Regions from separate parts of the Homo sapiens genome. Here regions 2, 3 and 4 are each linked to region 1. The links come from fine-mapping of genetic effects on gene expression. A gene starts in region 1. Each other region holds a variant in brackets. All regions are shown on one strand. Distances are between the middles of the regions. Region 1 holds the start of ASB5 (ankyrin repeat and SOCS box containing 5). Region 2 overlaps ASB5 (ankyrin repeat and SOCS box containing 5). Region 3 overlaps ASB5 (ankyrin repeat and SOCS box containing 5). Region 4 overlaps ASB5 (ankyrin repeat and SOCS box containing 5).

What was found. PIP is the estimated chance that this variant, and not a neighbour inherited with it, causes the effect. A credible set is the group of variants that fine-mapping cannot tell apart.
Region 2: its variant is the best candidate, but not a certain one, in a credible set for the expression of ASB5 in cerebellar hemisphere (GTEx, PIP 0.63).
Region 3: its variant is the best candidate, but not a certain one, in a credible set for the expression of ASB5 in cerebral cortex (GTEx, PIP 0.51).
Region 4: its variant is the best candidate, but not a certain one, in a credible set for the expression of ASB5 in spinal cord (GTEx, PIP 0.80).

Annotation. Positions count from the first base shown.
Region 1 is chr4:176,266,526-176,272,093 of GRCh38, reverse strand. ASB5 (ankyrin repeat and SOCS box containing 5) reads left to right here and starts at 2,872. Exons shown (of 7, transcript NM_080874.4): 1 at 2,872-3,181. The coding sequence starts at 2,986.
Region 2 is chr4:176,213,278-176,218,845 of GRCh38, reverse strand. ASB5 (ankyrin repeat and SOCS box containing 5) reads left to right here. Exons shown (of 7, transcript NM_080874.4): 6 at 1,837-2,028; 7 at 3,119-5,173. The coding sequence ends at 3,246. Among named protein-coding and RNA genes, the nearest start is that of SPATA4, 20 kb to the right of the region's middle. The variant C/T (reference allele first, on the strand shown) is at 2,201.
Region 3 is chr4:176,244,749-176,250,316 of GRCh38, reverse strand. The region is part of intron 1 of ASB5 (ankyrin repeat and SOCS box containing 5); the gene reads left to right. Among named protein-coding and RNA genes, the nearest start is that of ASB5, 22 kb to the left of the region's middle. The variant C/A (reference allele first, on the strand shown) is at 3,031.
Region 4 is chr4:176,231,918-176,237,485 of GRCh38, reverse strand. The region is part of intron 1 of ASB5 (ankyrin repeat and SOCS box containing 5); the gene reads left to right. Among named protein-coding and RNA genes, the nearest start is that of ASB5, 35 kb to the left of the region's middle. RefSeq lists an enhancer at 3,263-3,432. The variant G/T (reference allele first, on the strand shown) is at 2,849.

The DNA of each region.
Region 1 (5,568 bases):
GCACATAAAGTTCCATCTTATTTAATCATTGTAGCATGTATGCAGCTTACTGGAGTAATTTAGGTTCCTGATTACATATAATCTTGTATGATCTCTTCTGTGTGTGTCGTGGGTGGGGGCAGTATGTGTATGTGTCTGTGAATCTGTGTGACTCTGTCTCAATCTCTGTATGTATGAGTCGTATTTGCTCAATCAGATTGTAAGTGCTTAAAAATAGAAAATTTTAGAGGCAACTTGAGCATGTATTTTAGTTAGAACTATGTTCAAATAGTGTTGTTCTTTATAATTAACTTTTATAGGTCTCTAAAGCTCTCTGAGCCCAACTTTTCTCATTTTTAAAATGTGAATAATAATATTCACCCCCCTAAGATGAAATAAATTCATAAATAAATAAATATATGCATGTAGCATCCAACGTACCCTCAATAAATGATTTTTCCTATGTTTTAACTTTTCTCACATCATTCATTCTAGTACTACAATGTTGAGTTCAGTTTCAACACTTTAGTTTGACTGATTGATCGAAGCTAACAAAATTAGGAAAGTTGAGATATACTGAGCTAATCAACTAGACCTTGCTACCACAGTCTCTCAACATGGTATATTATAAAAACATTTATCTCAGTAAGTCACTTCAATGACTAATCAATATTTTATTTTCCTGACGAAATGAAAATGCCAGGAAAATAGATGCACAATACTTTTAATGTGGTTATGTGTCTTTTAAGTATTAACAGAGTTGTTCATAGTGTTATTTGGAAGCGTTTATAATATGAAAAATACAGCATCTAATTTCCACTTGAAGAATTCGTATGCTATGAGTCATTTTATTTGGGCTTAATTTTTATTTAGTAATTAGCAGACTCAGAGAGGGTGAAATTTGCTGAGGGAGAGTATACCAACAGAACATACAAATGGGAATCAAGTAATTCATAAAAACAAAACCTGATATCTTGACATAAAATCCTAAATATTATACTGTAGTTTTTTGTATTAGTAAAACTAGAAGGATTTAAACTTAATGCACCGATGATTCCAGCCTTAGTGAAATGAAAATGTTTCTTAACCCCAAAGAATCCAGGCTCCTGATTAGCTCATGCGAAGACAATTATTTATGATAGCACTTACTGGTAAAGAGAAAGGACTGAAACCTTAGATGGGCACTTAGACGTGACTAAGGCAGGTTTTATTTCTGATCCCGAAGCACTGAAGAGGAAGTCTGCAGTGACTCAGAGCACTGTGATGGCCCAGCTGTCCACGGGCATACCTCTCTAGTGTGGAGTCAGGCATCATCATGCCAGAGGGAAGACTCACCATAGAAGAATCAGCATGTATTGACTCAACTGACACAGTCTTACCAGTAGTGAAAGAGAGGAACATTTTGTTAATCTTCTATTTGAAGTTAATTTTCACTGACTCCCAAAGCACATATGAAATGGCACACTGGGTCTAATTAATGTCTGCCTAGCCAGTATTCTGCCTCTGAAAATGATACCAGGGGCCATTTTCATAAGAAGCTTGGTAATTTCTTTCTAATATATAGATCTAATTATTATTATTATTATTTTCTGAGAGCCATTCATTCATTGGGGAAAGAAGCAGCCTGCTTTATTTGACATATTTATTTTACAGCCATTTCTCCTGTGTTGGAATGTGTCAGGTAAATCTGTCCAGTCAGTTAAGATACTCAGCATAAAATGGATACACCGAGGGAGAGAAGCACACAACACTTACTAGTATGACCAGTCATGGGTATGCTCCTTATTCCAAGAATGGCCACTTCTATTTTCTTATGTTTGTTTTTTGTTATTTTGGAACTTCTCAAATGAATTAGGAAGCAAGTACCACAATCAACAGGCCCCAAACCCAGTCATAGAAATATGTAACTAAGCTCCCTGTAAGAAATGATATTTTGTATTTTGGCATATCATTTTTGGCTTAAATGCCAAAATATTGCTGCTGTATGTCATTTTCTTAATAATTTATTCTATTTCTCTTTTAAAATATAAGTTGCCTAAGGATACCTATATACAGATGCATTTCATTAATGAATAAAACATATTTGGGTTAACAAAGATTATAGGCCTAAAATGTATATTGTTTTCCTTGGTTTTGGACAGTCTTGATGAAATGCGTATGTTTACTTGATAATTCTTTTGGATATGTCTTTTCTGACACCTCCCTCCCAGGTTTACATGCTTCCTCTTTGTGCTCCCTTAATACCTGTTTTTACCTTCTTTATATTTACCTGATTTCTTTTCCATTTCCTCCACTAGACTCTAAGTTCCTTGTGGCAGGGACCATTCTACTTGTCTTTGTCACTTCAAAATCTAGCAAAGGGTTTGACACATACCAAGTTCTTAAAAAGTGTCCATTGGATGAAGGAACCGTGTTAAGTTATTAATCTGTGATGTTCCAGTGTAATGACTTGTAAGAAAAATGTTTTTTTAAATCAGTAAAAATAACATAATTGGTTAATTTGATGAGTAGTCATTAAAATACAAGCCATGGACTGTGTACTGATTTAGCTCATGGTCTACAAATAGTACAGTGCCATTTTAAAGCCTTAAATGATAGACAACTTTACTCGATATGAATATCATTTACATTAACAATGGGAACCCCATACACTGTCTTCAAATTGTTCTTGATAACTAAATATATAAAATGGAAAGGATATGCATATATATTTCAATATCTGGATTTTGAAATTTGGAGCACAGAGGTGGAGTGTCATTTTATATTGAGAATGGAAAGTCAGGAGACTTGTGACACGTGATGCAATTGCTTCCATGGAATATTTTCAGACCAATAGGAGTTTGCGAAGAACTTTTATGGAGTGTATAAATATTTTGAGCTGTAGGCATCACTACCAGCTGATATTTTCTTTCCTCAGGACCAGCTGTTCAGGAGCATCCCGGACGAGAGCCAGGCACATTTGAGACTTGGATCCAACTAAAGACCGCCGCAGATTCTTCTGCAGCAATGTCGGTGTTAGAAGAAAATCGGCCGTTTGCTCAACAATTATCCAATGTCTACTTTACAATACTTTCGCTGTTCTGTTTTAAGCTTTTTGTGAAAATCAGCCTTGCCATCCTCAGTCATTTCTACATAGTGAAAGGCAACCGCAAGGAAGCGGCAAGGATAGCAGCTGAATTTTATGGAGTAACCCAAGGACAAGGTATGTTTATGATAATCCTCTCTTGTTTCAAGTGGAGTTTAACTTTCATCTGATCCACAATTACATGTTTTCTTTTTAGACTGCTTCAAGGTAAATATTTTATAAACTTTTGTTAAGGGAAATACTTGTAACTCACTTCGTGGCTTTATAAAAAGGAAAATTACTTTTTTAATGTAAATGTTTGGGTTAAAATCAAGGTATCATTGCAAAAGAGATTAAGGAAGGCATACTATATATATAATAGGAATATATATATGTAATAGAAATATATCTATTCCTATTAAGAAACATTTTAAAAAGTTAAACATTTGATCTGCCAAGTCATAGTATTAGAGATTAGTTTTAGAAGTAATTGATTGCACTTCAGTCGTCCTCTAATGTGTACCTGGATTGTATAATTTTAAATTAAATCTTTAGTTATGTGTAAAATAATTGTTATTAAAAAGAGGGGATTTCAAGATTTGGTTTCTCACAACTTTAATAAGATAACCATTTGACTCTAAAATAAAGCACACACACAAAGAAGATTGACGACATGTGTTTTTCTGATGGAATTGTTACTGCTCAGCTCAGTTTGTAAAAAATTGGTTATAAAAGGATAGAAACATAATTAATACATTTTATATGTGTGCAGCCAAGTGCATCCATGTTCTTTAGAAGAAATTGTAGTATGAAACCAAATGAGAAACAATATTACCCATAGACTTCAGAAGGTTGTAAAACCATTTAGGTTCTATTGGGTCGGTACTCTAAAAAATAAAAATGACTCATATGGCAGGCTTTAAAGTGCCATTTTTAAATTCTCATAGTCTTCAGATTCATTTCTGATTTGAAAATCAACAGGCATGCATGAATATTTATAGCCCAAATACCTCCAAAACAACTTAAATTGTCAGCATTGAAATTTACTATCACACAATTTAAACATGTAAACTTGAAAGAAAAGTCTCTTAGAGTAGAAAGCTTGCCTTCTTAAAATCCATGTTCCTACATTTTTCAATGTGGGATGCGACTCATTTTAAAATCTAGGTTACTCTATTAGTACATGGAAAGTTGAGTGAAGGTGGAAAATCTTTTTTAGTGTGTGAGGTAGATAGTGAGTACATGTTTCCTGAGGAAGACTGCAATTTGCAACATGAGGAATTGATGTTCTTATTCAAAATGAGGAAAATTTAAATGTTCATAAGAATCTCTTTAGGGAAAGATAAAATCTCAAGTAAATAGGCTGTATTTAACCCTTTACCTACCACCTCTGCCTTAGAACAGAGAGAACTATATTTTATACATTTATGGAGACTGGGGCTAACATTATCACCCAGGCTGGAGTGTAGTGAAGTGGAGTGGCTCAATTCTCACTGCATCCTTGAACTCCTAGGCTCAAGGGATCATCCTGCCTTAGCCTCCTAAGTAGCTAGGACACACAACCATGCCTGGCTAATTTTATTCTTTGTAGAGACAGAGTCTCAACATTGTCCGCCTAAGGTGGTCTCAAACTCCTGGGCTCAAGGGATCCTCCTGCCTCAGCCTCTGAAAGCTCTGGAATTACAGGTGTGAGCCTCCGTGCCAGGCCTGAACTATATCAAAATGTGACATATACACTATGTGATTAATCTGTACATAAAAAATTTAGTTGGCAAATGGAATATTTGTGTACAAAACAGCAAACATAGAAAACTAAATTTTAAAACAAAAGCCATATTTGCAGATACACGAGTAAACAGCTTACATGATCATAAAGTGGTAAAATTTACCCTCATGGGCGGCCTGTAGCACATTACTTCATAATCAGATCTTGTCTATGTATTATGAGAATTTCTCTACATTAACACATGAAATATTGCCTAAACAGAAGAAACATTTTTGTGGGTTGAAAAGAGTTTTAGAGGAGGCCATGGAAGCTCCTTTTTGTACATATTTTCAAATAAAAAGAAACACTCATCCCCTCATTAGACTTATCTTAGTGTGCTTATGCTGGGAAATCATGGGAATATATGCAATGGTTTCCACATTCCCATATACTTTTAGGATTCTGTTTTAAATTAAATTAGAATTCTAGGATTTTTTGTCTCAAGAAGGAAAGAAAAAAGGAAATCAATATCAATAGGAAACACTTTTCCTGGAAATATAAAATGGAAGCAAAGTTTTTACAAATTTTGTTTTGTGTTATTTTTAATGTTAGATGTATTTAACAAAAATTTCCCCTCTAATATCATGCATTAATCTGTATATGAAACAATAGAATATAGTATTATAATTTTAATTCAATATAAGCATAATTTGTTTCTAATTTTATTTTAACATTAAGAGAGCAAATCAGGTACCTTATAAAACTCTTTCTTAATCTTCTACTTCTAAGCATTCATTCTTTCTTGCCCAGGAAAATTATT
Region 2 (5,568 bases), 53 kb after region 1:
AATATATATTTATATATCATACATATATATTTATATATCATACAAATATATATATTTATATATCATACAAATATATATATTTATATATCATACAAATATATATATTTATATATCATACAAATGTATATATCATACAAATATATATATATTTATATATCATACAAATATATATATATTTATATATCATACAAATATATATATTTATATATCATACAAATATATATTTATATATCATACATATATATTTATATATCATACAAATATATATATTTATATATCATACAAATATATATATCATACAAATATATATATTTATATATCATACAAATATATATATCATACAAATATATATATTTATATATCATACAAATATATATATATTTATATATCATACAAATATATATATTTATATATCATACAAATATATATATTTATATATCATACAAATATATATTTATATATCATACATATATATTTATATATCATACAAATATATATTTATATATCATACAAATATATATATCATACAAATATATATATTTATATATCATACAAATATATATATATTTATATATCATACAAATATATATATATTTATATATCATACAAATATATATATATTTATATCATACAAATATATATATTTATATATCATACAAATATATATATTTATATATCATACAAATGTATATATTTATATATCATACAAATATATATATATAGAAATTACTGTTAGTAATTGTTGATTGATTGTTATTTTCAGACCCTTTTCTTCCATAAAATTGACATAACCAACAAAGTTTATGCTTTCTTTATGGAAATTTTGTTATGGAATATAATTTTTTCACGAAACATTTTATATTTGTTTTAAAAATATTGAAAATGATTACATTTATTGAAATTTGAAAGGAGCAGAAGGGCCATAAAGGGACACTTTAACTGTACTGCTTCATGAAGACATCATTAGTTTTAAAGATAGTATCGGAAAACAGAGTTGAAAAGAACTTATGCATTTTTATTGGTAGACATTTCTGGTATTGTAACCGTTTATGTACCAGAAAATGGGATGGTTATTTTTAACAGTACTAAACAGCATTTATTTATTGCAAATGCATTGAATGACCAGCATGTGCCAGGCTTTGCACTGGGATAAAGTAAGTGTGCAATAGGTAATGTAGCATGTAGGCTGTATTTTAACATAAGCATTTTTAAAAGCTTTCCTTTCATGCAGATATCATCAATGTGCCTTTTGATTTAAAAGGCTCAATATCTTTATATACTTACTGACTTAAACTACATAAGTGAGAAATGGCAGGAAAATCTATATACATTTTACCTAAATAGCTCACATATTCATGAGTTTCCCAAGAAAACCAAAGAGCTTCATTGCCTTAAATAAATGAAAAGAATAATAGAAATAAGCACCTGAATAATTCTAAAAGCTATCAACCATGATGAAAATAAAAATGAGTGAACTTAATTGTGCACTCTTTATAATAGTAGTTAGTATGGTTACTTTTGGAATCATTTAAAAGTTAAAAAGAATTTTATTATGATAGTTCAAGCATACAGAAAAGTATCAGAGAGTCACATAACAAATGTATGTACCCTCTGCCATTCAGATGTGCCCAGTTTATATATATGTATATGTACATATGAGGCATATATGTGTATGTAGATACTGTATATGTATATAAAGAAATAACTCATAACAAATAGAGTTGAAGTCCCCTTAATAACCTTCCTCTATTGCCTTTCCTTTTCTATCCCCACTGAGGCAGCTGGCTTATTTAACAACTTTTATTTATATTTATCTTCACTCCGTATTACATGTAGGTGCTGACGTACAGAAAGGCAAATATTGGGATACTCCATTACATGCTGCTGCTCAACAATCCAGCACAGAAATTGTAAACTTACTGCTAGAATTTGGAGCAGATATCAATGCCAAAAATACAGAGCTTCTGCGACCTATAGATGTAGCTACGTCTAGCAGTATGGTGGAAAGGATATTGCTTCAACATGAAGGTAAGAAAAATACATGTGGAAACTTACAAAAACAAAATATATTTGCCTAAAATAGATGAAAGTGAGAGAGTTTTTGTTGGCATGGAAAGTAACAATGGCATAAAATGTGGAATATTATTTGTGAAAGTAGATGATTTTTAACTTAGGTTTTATCTATAAAGAAGATATCAGC[C/T]GAGTGTGGTGGCTCACACCTGTAATCCCAGCACTTTGGGAGGCCAAGGCGGGTGGATCACAAGGTCAAGAGATCAAGGCCATCCTGGCCAACATGGTGAAACCCTGTCTCTACTAAAAACACAAAAATTAGCTGGGCATGGTGGTGCGTGCCTGTAATCTCAGCTACTCAGGAGGCTGCGGAAGGAGAATCACTTGAACCCGGGAGGCGGAGGTTGCAGTGAGCCAGGATTACGCCACTGCACTCCAACCTGGCAACAGAGTGAGACTCCATCTAAAAAAAAGAAAAAAAATGATAATTTTAATTTTCTCTTTCATCTTACCTAAACTCTCATATATTTTTGGTTAAATATATTCAATTAGTTTCAGTAATGCATTATATGCACTTCTGGTATAATATCTGCTGATTTATATTTGGAGCATGCCCCATTTTATAAGGACATGAACCTTCTATAACATATTATAGAAATAAAATTAGTAAATATTTTTACATTTGAGACTTTTGTTCTAAAATAGGATTTCTTAATCCTAGTCCAGGGACTATAATATTTCTTTTAGGGTAAATATTAAACTTAATTTTAAAATTTCCCCTTTTAGTGCATAATACTTCTCAGGACTTTTGATTTATATCTCCTTCAAAAAGCAGACTTTGTTTCTGAGGCTTTAAATTCAACAATTATTTCCTAAGCCTGAGGATTATAATATTTTAAGGAATGTATATGGAATATATCTCAATTATAATAAGATCTTATAAATAAAAGCAATATAACTGCTTACATAAATTTCCCTAGTATAGTGGTCATGCTATCCTAGGTTTACTACAAAGCATTGTAGTTTTTATGGTTTTATGTTATGTACCTTACAACATAAAAAATTCATTTCTATTTTAATTAACAAATAGATTCATGTCTTCTTGTAGCTACCCCAAGCTCTCTTTACCAACTTTGCCGACTCTGTATCCGAAGCTACATAGGAAAACCAAGATTGCACCTTATCCCACAACTCCAGCTGCCAACGTTACTGAAGAATTTCTTACAGTATCGATAAAACAGTAAAGTAATTCTAAATACCTTGAAAATCAAAATTTCTATTTCTTTTGCTTAAGGAATAGTTCATATAAAAATATGCTAAAGATAGGATAAAAGTGAGTGTGAGATCACCCAGGGAAGCAGTAAAATATCAATTTTCATTTTAAGTGTATTAGTACTATTGTTTTATCATTTATGCTGTCTTTGGATTATAGCATATTTATAATATCTATTTTTTGTTATTTCAATATACCCTCCTGTTTATTCAGGAAAAAATAATAAAGTCACTATCTTATGTTTTCTTTTGGATTGGAAAGAAATAAAGCTCCTAGTAAAGTTATTCATATTATATTTAAAAAGGTCTATGTTCTTCAACTAATGGGTTAACTTTTTAATTTTGGCTATTGTAATTGGCTAACTTGTTACTGATATTGACATAAAATATGAATATGGCTTAGCAAAGAGCAACTAATATGTTTTCTGAAACCAGGATGATGCTCATTCAGGAAATCCACTATGTTGAATGTCCACTGGTCATTAGAATGAACACTTCATAAAGATAAATTGCCCCCCTCTCCCCCACTTACCCCTGGCAAAGGACTCACAAGTCACTTCTCTTCTCCATAGTACATGGACTTGTTACAGAAAAGTGATAGGATGAAAGGTCAATACTGCCCTCTCACCCTGAGATATTTAGAACATTACACACCTTCTAAGGCTATGTTAAGACTGCCTCCTTCTCAGGAGTAGCCCCTGATGATCTCTTATCAAGGCGGTTATATGCATATTACTCCAGCCTTCTTCCATTTCAGAAATTGTCAATAGCTAGTGATACTTGGACTTAAGAAAATGAACTATATATCTAATTAACAAACAGGCCCTGGATCATATTCCGGGGATCATCACATCAGTCCAAGGATATAAAAAAATGGAAGATTAAAAACTCAAATTGTGGAGTTTTTAAAGAGTGGGTGCCACTTAACACATTGGAGACCTTAAAAAATGTATATAGAGAACTTAATCGCACTGTTTCTAATTCTTTTTACACAAAACAAGGGCTTAGAGTATACTGTATTTGCAAGTAATAGCAAGAGAGTATTGTATAAAAGAAGATATTACTAAGCTAGTCCTCTGCAAGGGTAAATACTACGTTTATTCTCTTCAGCTTTAACTATACTTGAGTGCAATAAAAAACTTAATAAAATTTTATGCCTGTTTTGTAATTCAGGGCCTATTATGATTTTAGAAATAAGATAATCAACGTACAACTCTTTGTAAAACAAAAGCAACTTTGGGTGAGTTTTATAGATTTATTAAATTTTGATAAAGTAAATATTTTGACCACTATTTTCAACAACCCAGGGCTTATTTTCTTCTGACTTCTTGGCTAACTTCCAGACTATGGGAAAATAAATTATGATTGTATGTGACCCCCAGATCACTAAGCTTGCATTTTGGCAGAAAGAAAAAAAATCAGTTGTGATTTAAAACGTTTGTTGAGATTTTCAAACATAGAAATAAAGCTGTAGCATATTCACTAAACAATGTTTTATATGAGGATAGGGACCTTTAAATATGTGTTTTATAGAATATCTCACACATTTGTAATGGATAACGTGCATTAAAATGGAGTTCTTATTATAGAATAACCTGGTTAAACAGATATTAAAGCTGCTTTTGGGTAAAACAGGTTTCCACCAGTATTTTCCCTGAGCTAGAGGAGAAGTCTTAGATTTTAAGAGTAATACAACCCATCTATCTTATTAGTCTTGTGCCAATAAGAGAAGTAAATATCAAACATTAAAATGGTCACTTTACAATTTCAGTATGTCTGTACCTTGTATCTTAGCTTGAGTATGATTGTCTTATCAAAGTAGTGTTCTAACTTTAATGTATTGTATGTTTGTTATTATATTAAAGTGTGATTATTATTCATTGGAATAAAACACTTTGTGTTTGTCTCATTATTTTATTTTATAATGAAAAGTCATGGAGTGACTCAGTTGCACTAATTTTTTTCACCACCAGTTTCCAAATCACTGAATCATGAGCATTAAGATAGAGTAGCACAGAATAAAAAATAGATACCTCAAAGACCTTCTAATCCAAGACATATTTTATATATATGTGACATATAATACATATAATATATGTGATATTTAATACATATAATATACATATATACATATATGTATACACACACATTAAAGTTCAAGGACAAAATTTCACAAAGTAAAAGAAACAAAATAGTTACTATGTGACATAAGATTTAAGAAATTTAGTAAAACAATAACTGTAGATAGACACTGTTGAAACAATTTTTTTGGATTAAAAAAGTAAT
Region 3 (5,568 bases), 22 kb after region 1:
TTGGTGAATCAGTTTCCTGGCCAGAGAAACTTTTAGCACAAAGAACCCAAGCTACCTTTTGTGAATTTATCACGCCCGTGACCTCAGCCACCCTATTCCAGAACGTAAATGTACTTGACCGAACTCAGAACAGCTGCACTGAGTCACCAAATAATGTGTAATCATCATTATTTTAGGACACTCCCTGTGGCCTTGCAGGTGATATTTCACTTAACTCACTTTCTTTTTCTTTTTCTTTTTTTTTTTTTTTTTGAGATGGAGTCTCACTCTGTCACCCAGGCTGGAGTGCAGTGGTGTGATCTCGGCTCACTGCAAGCTCCGCCTCCCGGGTTAATGTCATTCTCCTGCCTCAGCCTCCCGAGTAGCTGGGACTACAGGCGCCCGTCACCACGCCCGGCTAATTTTTTGTGTTTTTAGTAGAGACGGGGTTTCACTGTGTTAGCCAGGATGGTCTCCATCTCCTGACCTCGTGATCCACCCGCCTCGGCCTCCCAAAGTGCGGGGATTACAGGCGTGAGCCACCGCGCCCGGCCAACTCACTTTCTTTTAAGGATCGCCTAAGGTCACTTAAAGAATGCTGTTGGAAATTTTGCTTCCCCAGCCCTCTGGAGCACTCGTCTAACTCCATGTTTTCTCATCCTCTCCACCAAGCACAGTTTCATATGAGGAGAAATTTCCTAGGTCTTCTCGGATGCCCTGTTACTTCTCAGCACCAATGGGAGAAGAACTGAAGTCTCTTATTACCCTCAGTGGTAGAGCAGACATTCAGCAGATCTGCTCTCCCAATCAGGGAGAGCAGAGAGTCCCACTAAGACTGCAGGTTGGAATAAAGAACAGCAGGGTAAGAAGAGCCAAGTGTTTACTCTTCTCTTCTCATATTGGGAGTGTCGCATTTTCTGTTAACCTCTGCCTCTATTTTAAAATCTTTTTACCTGGGATCTTTTTGTTAATTAGTATTTTCTTGATCATAAAATACGCCGCAACTGGGAAAAATGGTCAGAACTTTGTTTACAGAGTTTAATACAAGATTTTGAAACACAAAACTGTATAGGGCAGATGCGGTGGCTCACGCCTGTAATCCCAACACTTTGGGAGGCTGCGGCGGGCAGATTACTTGAAGTCAGAAGTTCAAGACCAGCCTGGCCAAGATGGCGAAACCCTGTCTCTACTAAAAATACAAAAATTAGTCGGGTGTGGTGGCCCACGCCTGTCATCCCAGCTACTCGGTAGGCTGAGGCAGGAGAATCGTTGGGACCCGGGAAGCAGAGGTTTCAGGGAGCCAAGATCACACCACTGTACTCTAGCCTGGGCGACAGAACAAGACTCTGTCTCAAAAAAGCAAAACAAAACAAACAAAATGTAAACCTGTATAACAACCATTCAAGTCACGAAATAGAACCCCAGAAGCCTTCATGTATCTCTTTTCAATCACAATACCTTCTCCTTCTCCCATCAAGACCGAGTGACTAGTTTTTATAGTAATCATTTTCTTGCCTTTCTTTAGTTTCAGCTCCTATGCATACATCTCATATTGATATGGTTTAACCTATTTTTGAACCCTATATTAATTGAATCATTCTCTAAATATTCTTTTGTTATTTACTTTTACAATGAACAGTATGATATAATTGCCTACATATATCTAGGTTCATTCATTCTCAATAATGTAAATTCCATTACCAATTTGGGGCAATTATGAACAATATTTCTATAAACATCTAGTATAAATAAGTTTTTATAGCTCTAGAAGTGAAATTTCCAGGTCATAGGGCCTGTGTATCTCCAGTTTCTAAGACAGTATTGCCCTGTTTTCCAATGTGGCTGTATCTGTGGTGAAACCCCAGCAGGTTATGAGAATTCACATATTGTCAGTACTCTTAATATTTGCCAATGTGGGCTGGGTACAGTGGCTCACACCTGTAATCCTAGCTCTTTGGTAGGTCGAGGTGGGTGGATCACTTGAGCTCAGGAGACCAGCTTGGGCAACGTGGCAAAACCCCATCTGTACAAAAAATACAAAAGTTAGCCAGGCATGGTAGTGTGCACCTGTAGACCCAGTTACTTAAGAGGCTGAGGAGGGAGACCCACCAGAGCCTGGGGAGGGTGAGGCTGCAGTGAGCCATGATCGTGCCGCTGCACTCCAGCCTGCATGACAGAGTGACTCAATCTCAAAAAAATGAAAAGATAAAAAATAAAAAATTGCCAATATGGTGGGCATGTGGGAGTATATTATGGTTTAATTTTCATTTCCCTGACTAATAATGCCATTTTGATTTTTGTTGACCATTTGTACTTCTTCCTTTGCAATGTGCTCGCCAAATATTTTGCCTTCTATTCTATCAGGCCATCTGTCTTCCCCCTTTTTAAAATTGAGTTTTAGAAGTTATTTTGTATCCTAAAATTGTTAAGAAAATGAAAACATTTAGAAGAACTATTTACAAATATCTTCTGTGGCTTGACTTTTCACTTTTTATTGGTGTTTCTACTGGTGAACAGAAACTCTTAATTTAAAAATAGTCAAATTTACAAATCCTTTCCACTTTGATTAAGACTTTTTGTGGAATTCATCTTAAAAATCTTTTGGCACTTCAAGGTAATGGAAGTATTTCTTCCATATACTTAAAGCATTCCTTTGAAATTCATCCACTTGAATTTAATTTTTTGTATGGTGTAAGTCCATTTTTCACCAAATGCATGGTCAATTATATTCACACCATGTATTGGAAAGTGGGTTCTATATTTCATAATCTATAGTCACTACAGTGCCCAGTTTGTGTAAGTCTAGTGTTTATTCATGCATGAGTCTGCTTATGGGCTCTTATCAATTACATTGCTCTGGACCTATACTACACTAAACTGATTTCTGTAGCTTTAGAATAGGTCTTCATAGACAGAACAAGATCTCCCACATTCTTCTATTTTTTCATAGTTTTGGCTATTCTTGGTAATTTGAAATTCTATGTATCAATTTTAGAAGTAATTTCTGTGGTTCGCACAATACTTGTTGCATTTTTGTTGGAATTCATTGAA[C/A]CTATAAATCATTTATTTGAAGGAGAATCTACAACTTTGTAATACTTGGCTTTTCAATCATAAATGTAATATAGTTTCTCATTTATATAGGTTTTATTGAATATCTCCCAATAATGTTTTATTATCGTCTCCTGGGGAGATCTTACATATATTTGTTGAATTTATTCATAGGTAACAAATTGTTTTATGCTACCATAAATAATATCTTAATAAATTTTTACATTTTCAACCTGTTTGTCAAGGGCAGAGAGAAATACATTAATTTTTGTATATTAATTTCATACCAAAGAACTTTTCTAAGCTCTCTTATTAATTCTAATAGGAATCTATGGGTTCTATAGGGATTTTTTATGTGAAAAGTTATATTATTTGTGAATAATGAGAGTTTTGTTTCCTTTCTAAATGTTGTACCATTTTTATTTCTTCTTCTTTCTTTATTCTATGGATTAAACCTCTTGTATGATGTTGAATAGATTGGTGGTAGGGAGTGTTCATTTTTGTTTTTCAATTGAGAGGGAAAGCCTTCGACATTCTGTCATTAACCATCACGTCTTCTGAAGGTTTTCTGTTTTGTTTTTGTAGCTACCCCTTACCATTCTTAAGGAAGTATCTCACTTTGAGCTGTGTACACATCTAGACATTCAGTATACTGAGGAGAGTTTGCTTCTGCAAATGCATTTTTAAAAAAGCATTCCCCGTATCATTATTGGTGTAGTTCATGTTTCAGCTTTAATATCTGGAGAAACAGTTCACAGCACCTGAACTCACTAAATAAGCAACTGCACTGTGGTGTGGACTGTCTACACTCATACTCTGTGGTCATGGCTAGTGCTGTGATACTGGTTTAAGTGAAATTATCTTTCAGAGTCCATTCCTTACATCCTGAATACATGTACTGCATGTATCTGATAGGTGGTCTGAAAGGTTCTTCTTTTTCTTAAGATAAGATTTTAAAAAGACTTTATAGAAGATTGCCTCAGAAAAATCTCATCGAATAGCATCATTCTTCCTTTTTCCCTATTATCTCTTGACCCATAAATAGTCTTATAGTAGCTGTAAAAGCCTTTCCCCTTATGGTTAAAATTAAATACAGTAAAACATTTTCCCCCACTTCTTCCAATTCTGATATTTTAACAGCAACACAGCAAGTTCTAATTAGCCTAAGTTAAATAACCATTACTAATTTTACACCAAGATCAATATGGGGGATTTCTTTTTTTTTATCTGTGTAATTTTTTTTTATATACTTTAAGTTCTAGGGTACATGTGCACAACGTGCAGGTTTGTTACATATGTATACAAGTGCCATGTTGGTTTGCTGCACCCGTTAACTCATCATTTACATTAGGTATTTCTCCTAATGTTATCCCTCCCCCAGTCCCCACCCCACGACAGGCCCCAGTGTGTGATGTTCCTCACCCTGTATTCAAGTGTTCTCATTGTTCAATTCCCACCGAAGAATAAGAATATGCGGTGTTTGGTTTTTCTGTCCTTGCGATAGTTTGCTCAGAATGATGGTTTCCAGCTTCATCCATGTCGCTGCAAAGGACATGAACTCATCCTTTTTTATGGCCGCATAGTATTCCATGGTGTATATGTGCCACATTTTCTTAATCCAGTCTGTCATTGATGGACATTTGGGTTGGTTCCAAGTCTTTGCTATTGTGAATAGTGCCACAATAAACATACGTGTGCATGTGTCTTTATAGTAGCATGATTTGTAATCCTTTGGGTATATACCCAGTAATGAGATGGCTGCGTCAAATGGTATATCTAGTTCTAGATCCTTGAGGAATCGCCACACTGTCTTCCACAATGGTTGAACTAGTTTATACTCCCACCAACAGTGTAAAAGCATTCCTATTTCTCCACATCCTCTCCAGCACCTGTTGTTTCCTGACTTTTTAATGATCGCCATTCTAACTGGTGTGAGATGATACCTCATTGTGGTTTTGACTTGCATTTCTCTGATGACCAGTGATGATGAGCATTTTTTCATGTGTCTGTTGGCTGCATAAATGTCTTCTTTTGAAAAGTGTCTGTTCATATCCTCTCCCCACTTTTTGATGGGGTTGTTTGATTTTTTCTCATAAATTTATTTAAGTTCTTTGTAGATTCTGGATATTAGCCCTTTGTCAATATGGGGGATTTCTTTGTGTTTCATTATGTTTGCATAGCTTCATAACGTATCTCATCACTTCCTGGTAATGAATAATTAAGTTTATCTGGGAACTCCTGAAGAGCTGGCTTTAGGGGACAGCTTATAAAGAGGGTGGTGACTGAGGTGAGGCCTGGGTCATCTTTTTTGTTATTGTTGCTGTTGTTGTTGAGATAGGATCTCTGTTGCCCAGGTGAGAGCACAGTGGTGCAATCATAGCTCACTGCAGCCTTGAACTCCTGGGCTCAAGTGATCCTCCCCACTTGAACCTGTAGTGTGCCTGTAGTCCCAGCTACTCAGGATAAGCCCCGACATCCTGAGTATCTGGTGTTATAGGCACATGTCACCATGCCCAGCTAATTTTTAAATTATTTTTTTGT
Region 4 (5,568 bases), 35 kb after region 1:
TTTCTTCTTGCTAGAGCATTTGCACTTATGACACCTGGTTGTCACAGACAAAAAACGTCAACCAAACTATGTCCGCAGATATTGCTGTTGAAATGAACTGCATTAAGCAGGTCCTCACGAAAAGAAGGCTAGTGAGTATAGAGGAATGTTCTTCTAAACGAAAAGCTAGCTGGGGTATTCTGACCAGTCAAGGTTAGTATAGCAGCCATTTCAAATCTGTCAGTGTCCTGAAATAAACCACATTGGCCTGTTTTTGCAAATACTAACTTTAAACTGCGGGTGCTTTCCAGAATGCGGATTGAAATGCACATGTATGGCATGGCAAAGGACTGCTCTGTATTCTTGCCTTTTCGTGTATGGAAACTGCATCGGCTGACTCATTTTTGTGACTGTATATTAAACATGACTGCAAACTCTTAGACTCTGGTTTGTTTACCTTTCTGTTTCAGCAGGTGTTTCTAAGTTGGTATGGAAACAAGGAAAGATGCTATTAAGCAGGAAAAGACTGTTTACAGGCAATATGGAAATTTTAAATCATGTAAATTAGACATCAAGTAGGAGGATGATTTAGGCAAGAAAATGAGTAGAGCAACTTCCTAAAAGTGTTCTGACACGAAGTCATTAATTATAATGATAGAAAACTATGAAAGATAGAAAGGAGAATGAGCACAGTACCAAAGAGGAGGAATTATTTTTAAAAAGGAATATCCATACATTTGCATAAGTTTTAGTAGAACACCAGTATGATAGATGATAAATTTAAGGGTCGAAAATGCAGATTCAGAGAGAAAATGACTCTTGCCCCCCAAGATTGTAAGAGTTATATTTACTATGTAATAGCTGGAGCTTGAAGAATGTTATTATAAATGATTATGTTTTTCAAACATACAAAGCATATTTTCAAATAGGCTAAAACACTATAATTTCTTTCAAAGTTTGAGAAAGCAACTGGATCCCTACTCCCCACCCCAATACACATTTCCTTTTTGTTACTTTTCAACAACATAATTAACAACAAAATTGAGAAATATACCAGCAAGGAAAAAAGTGGTTGACTACAAAGAAGACAATTCAACAATTCAACAAATGCCTATCCAGTGTTGACTGCGTGCTAGACACTGTGCTAGAGGCGGGGAGCAGCAATAAGTAGTCTCATCATTTCATGGTCCTTAAAGTCCAGAAGGAATGCAATTATTAAAGAAATAAAGACAATCCTGTCATTTCTTAAATGAAGGGTAAGTTACCTAACTATGCACTAAACCGCAGGCATTAGCAACATAATAGAACTGTGTCAATGGCAAAAATTAAAAAAAAAAAATTAAGTAAACTAATTCACCTGGATGAGTCTCACATATCTTCAATGCAGATAGAGACTCTAAAGGAAGTTGAAAATAAGCTATCGTTTTATGTCAAAAATCTAATTTTCTATACAATTTTTTTTCGACATGCCTTAAATATACTGAAAATATAGAGCCAGGCCCAGTGGCACATACCTGTTATTCCAGTGACTCAGAAGGCTGAGGCAGGAGGATTGCTTGAGCCTGATTTGAAGGCTGCAGTGAGCGATGTTCAGAACATCACTGCCCTCCAGTCTGGATGACAGAGCAAGATTCTGTCTCTGAAAAAAAGGAGAAGAAAAAATATATAATAAAAAAAATGCCCCCATGCTATGATTTAAAATAAAAAAAAAAAAGACAAGTCTTAGCAAACTTTCACTAGATTTAGCTTTACATTTTCCCAGTGCTGTTAATGAGAATGTAAATAGGATCAGTCTTGCTGGAGGTAATTTGATGGTATGTGTCAAAATTTTAGGAATTTACCCTAAGCAGATAATTATTCACAAAGATAAGTAATAATATTTGATTTCCCAAAACTAAAAGCCACCTAAACATCATTTGATAGATAATTAAATAAATAAATACACACATAATGCTCTAGCTATATGATTAAATACATATCAATATATCATAATCACTTGTGGTAGAACTATATTTTTTCACATAGAACAATGACCATGAGATATCTTAAATGAAAACAAATCAGTTAAAAACCTTACAAACACTATGATTGTATCTTGATTAAAAAATGTGTGTTTCTAGAAAAAAGTTGGAAAGATACACCCTAAAATGTTTATAATGGTTGTACTTAGAAATAAGCACTATGATTTCTTGTGTATGTCAAATTTCACTTATTTAATGTACAACTTTTATAATCAATAAGGTATTATAGTTAATAGTACTGTATTGCTGTGTTTTGCTACTATTTCAAATATACTATTATTATATGAAAATGTAGAAAACACAATTCCACAATTCTTCCTTTTATTGAAGTAACTCTTCATTTGTCTAGTCTGTTAGTTACATTTATTATGGACTCATTATGGAATAACAGTCCACCAAGTGCCCTATGAGTTCTAGGGTTGAAAAGAATATTGTACCCTAAAATTTCAACTGGACATTCAAAAGAACGGAGTTTGCTTCCTGGCTTTGTCAGTTATTGTTTATAACTTGAGGCAAGTTATTTAATTCCCCTAAGTCCTAATGCAATGGAAATCATAACATTGACTTTCTTAAGAACACACTTTGTGTTAGACACTTCTCATGTCCATGTAACCCTTAGAACAACTAGAATATGTAAGTATGATTGCCCCCATTTTATAGTGAGGAAACTGAAACTTAGCAGTGTAAAAAACAGAGTGAGCCAATATGTGATAGAGTCAGGAGTCCAATTCGGATATGCCTCCTTTCACAGCCCTTGATTTTAACCCCATTACAAAGCTCCATACGGCTGCTCAGACAAGGTTCTAATGAAGCTGGGTGTGATCATGTGACTTTGAGCACTCATTCAT[G/T]CAACAAACATTCACTGATGTGCTAGGTATTGAGGATATGGTAATGAATGAAATCAACTGAGTCTCGCTTTCTAAGGTCTAGCATTCTAGTAATAAGTGCTGAGAAGAAAAGTAGAGCAGGGAAAGGAGACAAAGCATGAATGTTGGGGAAGGGACAGGGAGGATTTTTTAATAGAAGGTTGTCAAGAAGGCCTCTCTGATAAGGTGATATTTCAGAGAGCACTAAAGTCAGAGAACAAGTGATGTGGGTCTCAGAAAGGAGTACTTCAGAAAGAGCAAACAGAAGGTTGTGTAAGGAAAAGCAAGGAGGCCAGTATGTCTGGATGAGGATGATGGGCCTAGGAAAAAGTGGGTAGAACCCGAGATCAGAGCCTGGAGAGTTCATAGGTCATGACAAAGACTTCGGATTTTATTCCAGGTGTGAAGGGAAGCCATGGGATTCTTTCTAACTTCCAAAGGATTGCTTTGGCTCCCATGTTTAGTACAGACTACTGGAAGGGCATGGGCAGAAACACACTGACTAGTTAGGAGACTTTTGCAATACATCAGATGAGAATAATGGTGGCTTGGACTAGGGTATAGTGGTGGAGGCTGAGATACAAAGTTTGGATACATTTAAATGATAGAGGCAAAATGACTTCCTGGTGTGCGCCTGGTGGGTGTGAGAAACAGAAACTAAGGATTATGCAGAGGGTTTTGGCCTTGAAGCACCTGGATGAGTGCAGTTGCCATTTGCGGATCGGGAGAAGTTAGGAGTAAGGAATCAAGGGTTCGGTTTGGGACATGTTAAGTTGTATTACCTATTTAGATATTCAAGTGGAGAAGTTGAACAGCCAAACCTAAAATTGGGGTAATCAATATGTGGATAATATTTATGTTCATGGCACTAGAAGGGAGCTCCTCAAGAGTTAATGTAGATAGATGCAAAGACTGAGCTTGGATGATGAGGACTCAAGGTGGGAAAAGAAACTACCGCAACAATGGAAAAAAACACTGGGCCAAAAACAACTGACTCCTTTCAAAGAAGCACACGAAACACTCAATATATAAAGTTTCCTTGACAATTATTGCGGTTAAATTTGAGACCATATTATCATTACCAGGTGATGGAGGGAAATGGTAACACTGTTTAAACCAATAGAGAAATGAAAAAAGACTAGCTAATCTTAAGAGAAAGATGCTGGCTTTTAGAAATGGATTGAGATGCCAGGAAAATATCTAGGTGAATCCCCAGAAGTAAATTTTAACATGTGGCGCTGAAATTTGTGGGAGAGATCAGCGTGGGAGCTATGTAGATTAGAGTAATCCATATGCATGTAATAATTGTTACTAAATTTTGACAATATCTATTTTTGTCTCCTACAGATATATAGCCAAGAGGAATAAGATGAGATAAAGCATCTTTATCTTAAATAAGTTATCCTTCCTTCTGTTTAGAAGATGTAGTTAAAAGCTGATGGGGAAGATATATGAAAGTAATTGTTTAAAATGAAATTTGGGTTGTATTTGTGATGTTTCAAATGCATTTAGTACTGTGCTAAGTACTTTACATTCATTACAATTCAGTGAGGCAGGTAGACTCATCCTTGTTTTTACAGTTGAGAAAACTGGGTTTCAAGATGTTAACTGCCAAAGGTCACATAACTAGTAAATATCTATGCTGGAATTTGAACTCAGGTCTATCTTATAGTTAAATCCAGCATGCTCTATCCATGGCACCAGTGATCAGTAATAGTTAATTGAGATAGCTGATAGCTTGAAAATTATTGTGCTTAAATTTGAGACCATATGATTATTACCAGGTGATGGAGGGAAATGGTAACACTGTTTAAACCAATAGAGAAGTGAAAAAGGAATAGCTAGTCTTAAGAGAAAGATGTTGGCTTTTAGAAATGCATTGAGATGCCAGACATTATTTCCCTTGAAACCATGTTTCAAGGATTTCTGTGGCTCTGTGGTTGTCTGAAAGTATACAATAAAGGCTAGTAAATGCCTGGTGATTTTTAATTTGCTTATAAACTTGTGAGTAGAGATGGGCTACATGTTGTCAAGTCTGAAGCTTATACTGTATACACTTTGGGGGCTCCTTTAAGAAAAGTAACATGAAATTAGGGACAGAGTCTTAGAAGGGGAGTCTGTGCAGGTTAAGGGTTTCACTGGCTTCATGGTAAATCCACCTCCATTGTGAAGACGATTGTTGGTTTAATATTTTACAGGGGCCAGGCTCGGTGGCTCACATCTATTCCAGCACTTTGGGAGGCCGAGGCGGGTGGATCATCTGAGGTCAGGAGTTGGAGACCAGCCTGACTAACATGGTGAAACCCCCATCTTTACTAAAAATACAAAAATCAGATGGGTGTGTTGGCACATGTCTGTAATCCTAGCTACTTGGGTGGCTGAGGCAGGGGAATCACTGGAACCTGGGAGGTGGAGGTTGCAGTGAGCCGAGATCGCACCATTGCACTACAGCCTGGGTGACAAGAGCAAAACTCCAACTCAAAAAAAAAAAGTATATATATATATATATAAAATAGGTAAGAGATCTGAAAAAGGTATTGCCATTTTTTACTGAAATGAACATGTTATATGAAATGTCATTGCTTATTCCCTCTCCTTATAATTAATTCCCTAATTTTCCTATTTTGAGAACACTGAGGAAGAGCAGGTGTGGCTAAACTCTGCACCATTGCTAAGCTAGCTCTCTATTGAGTCCACATCCT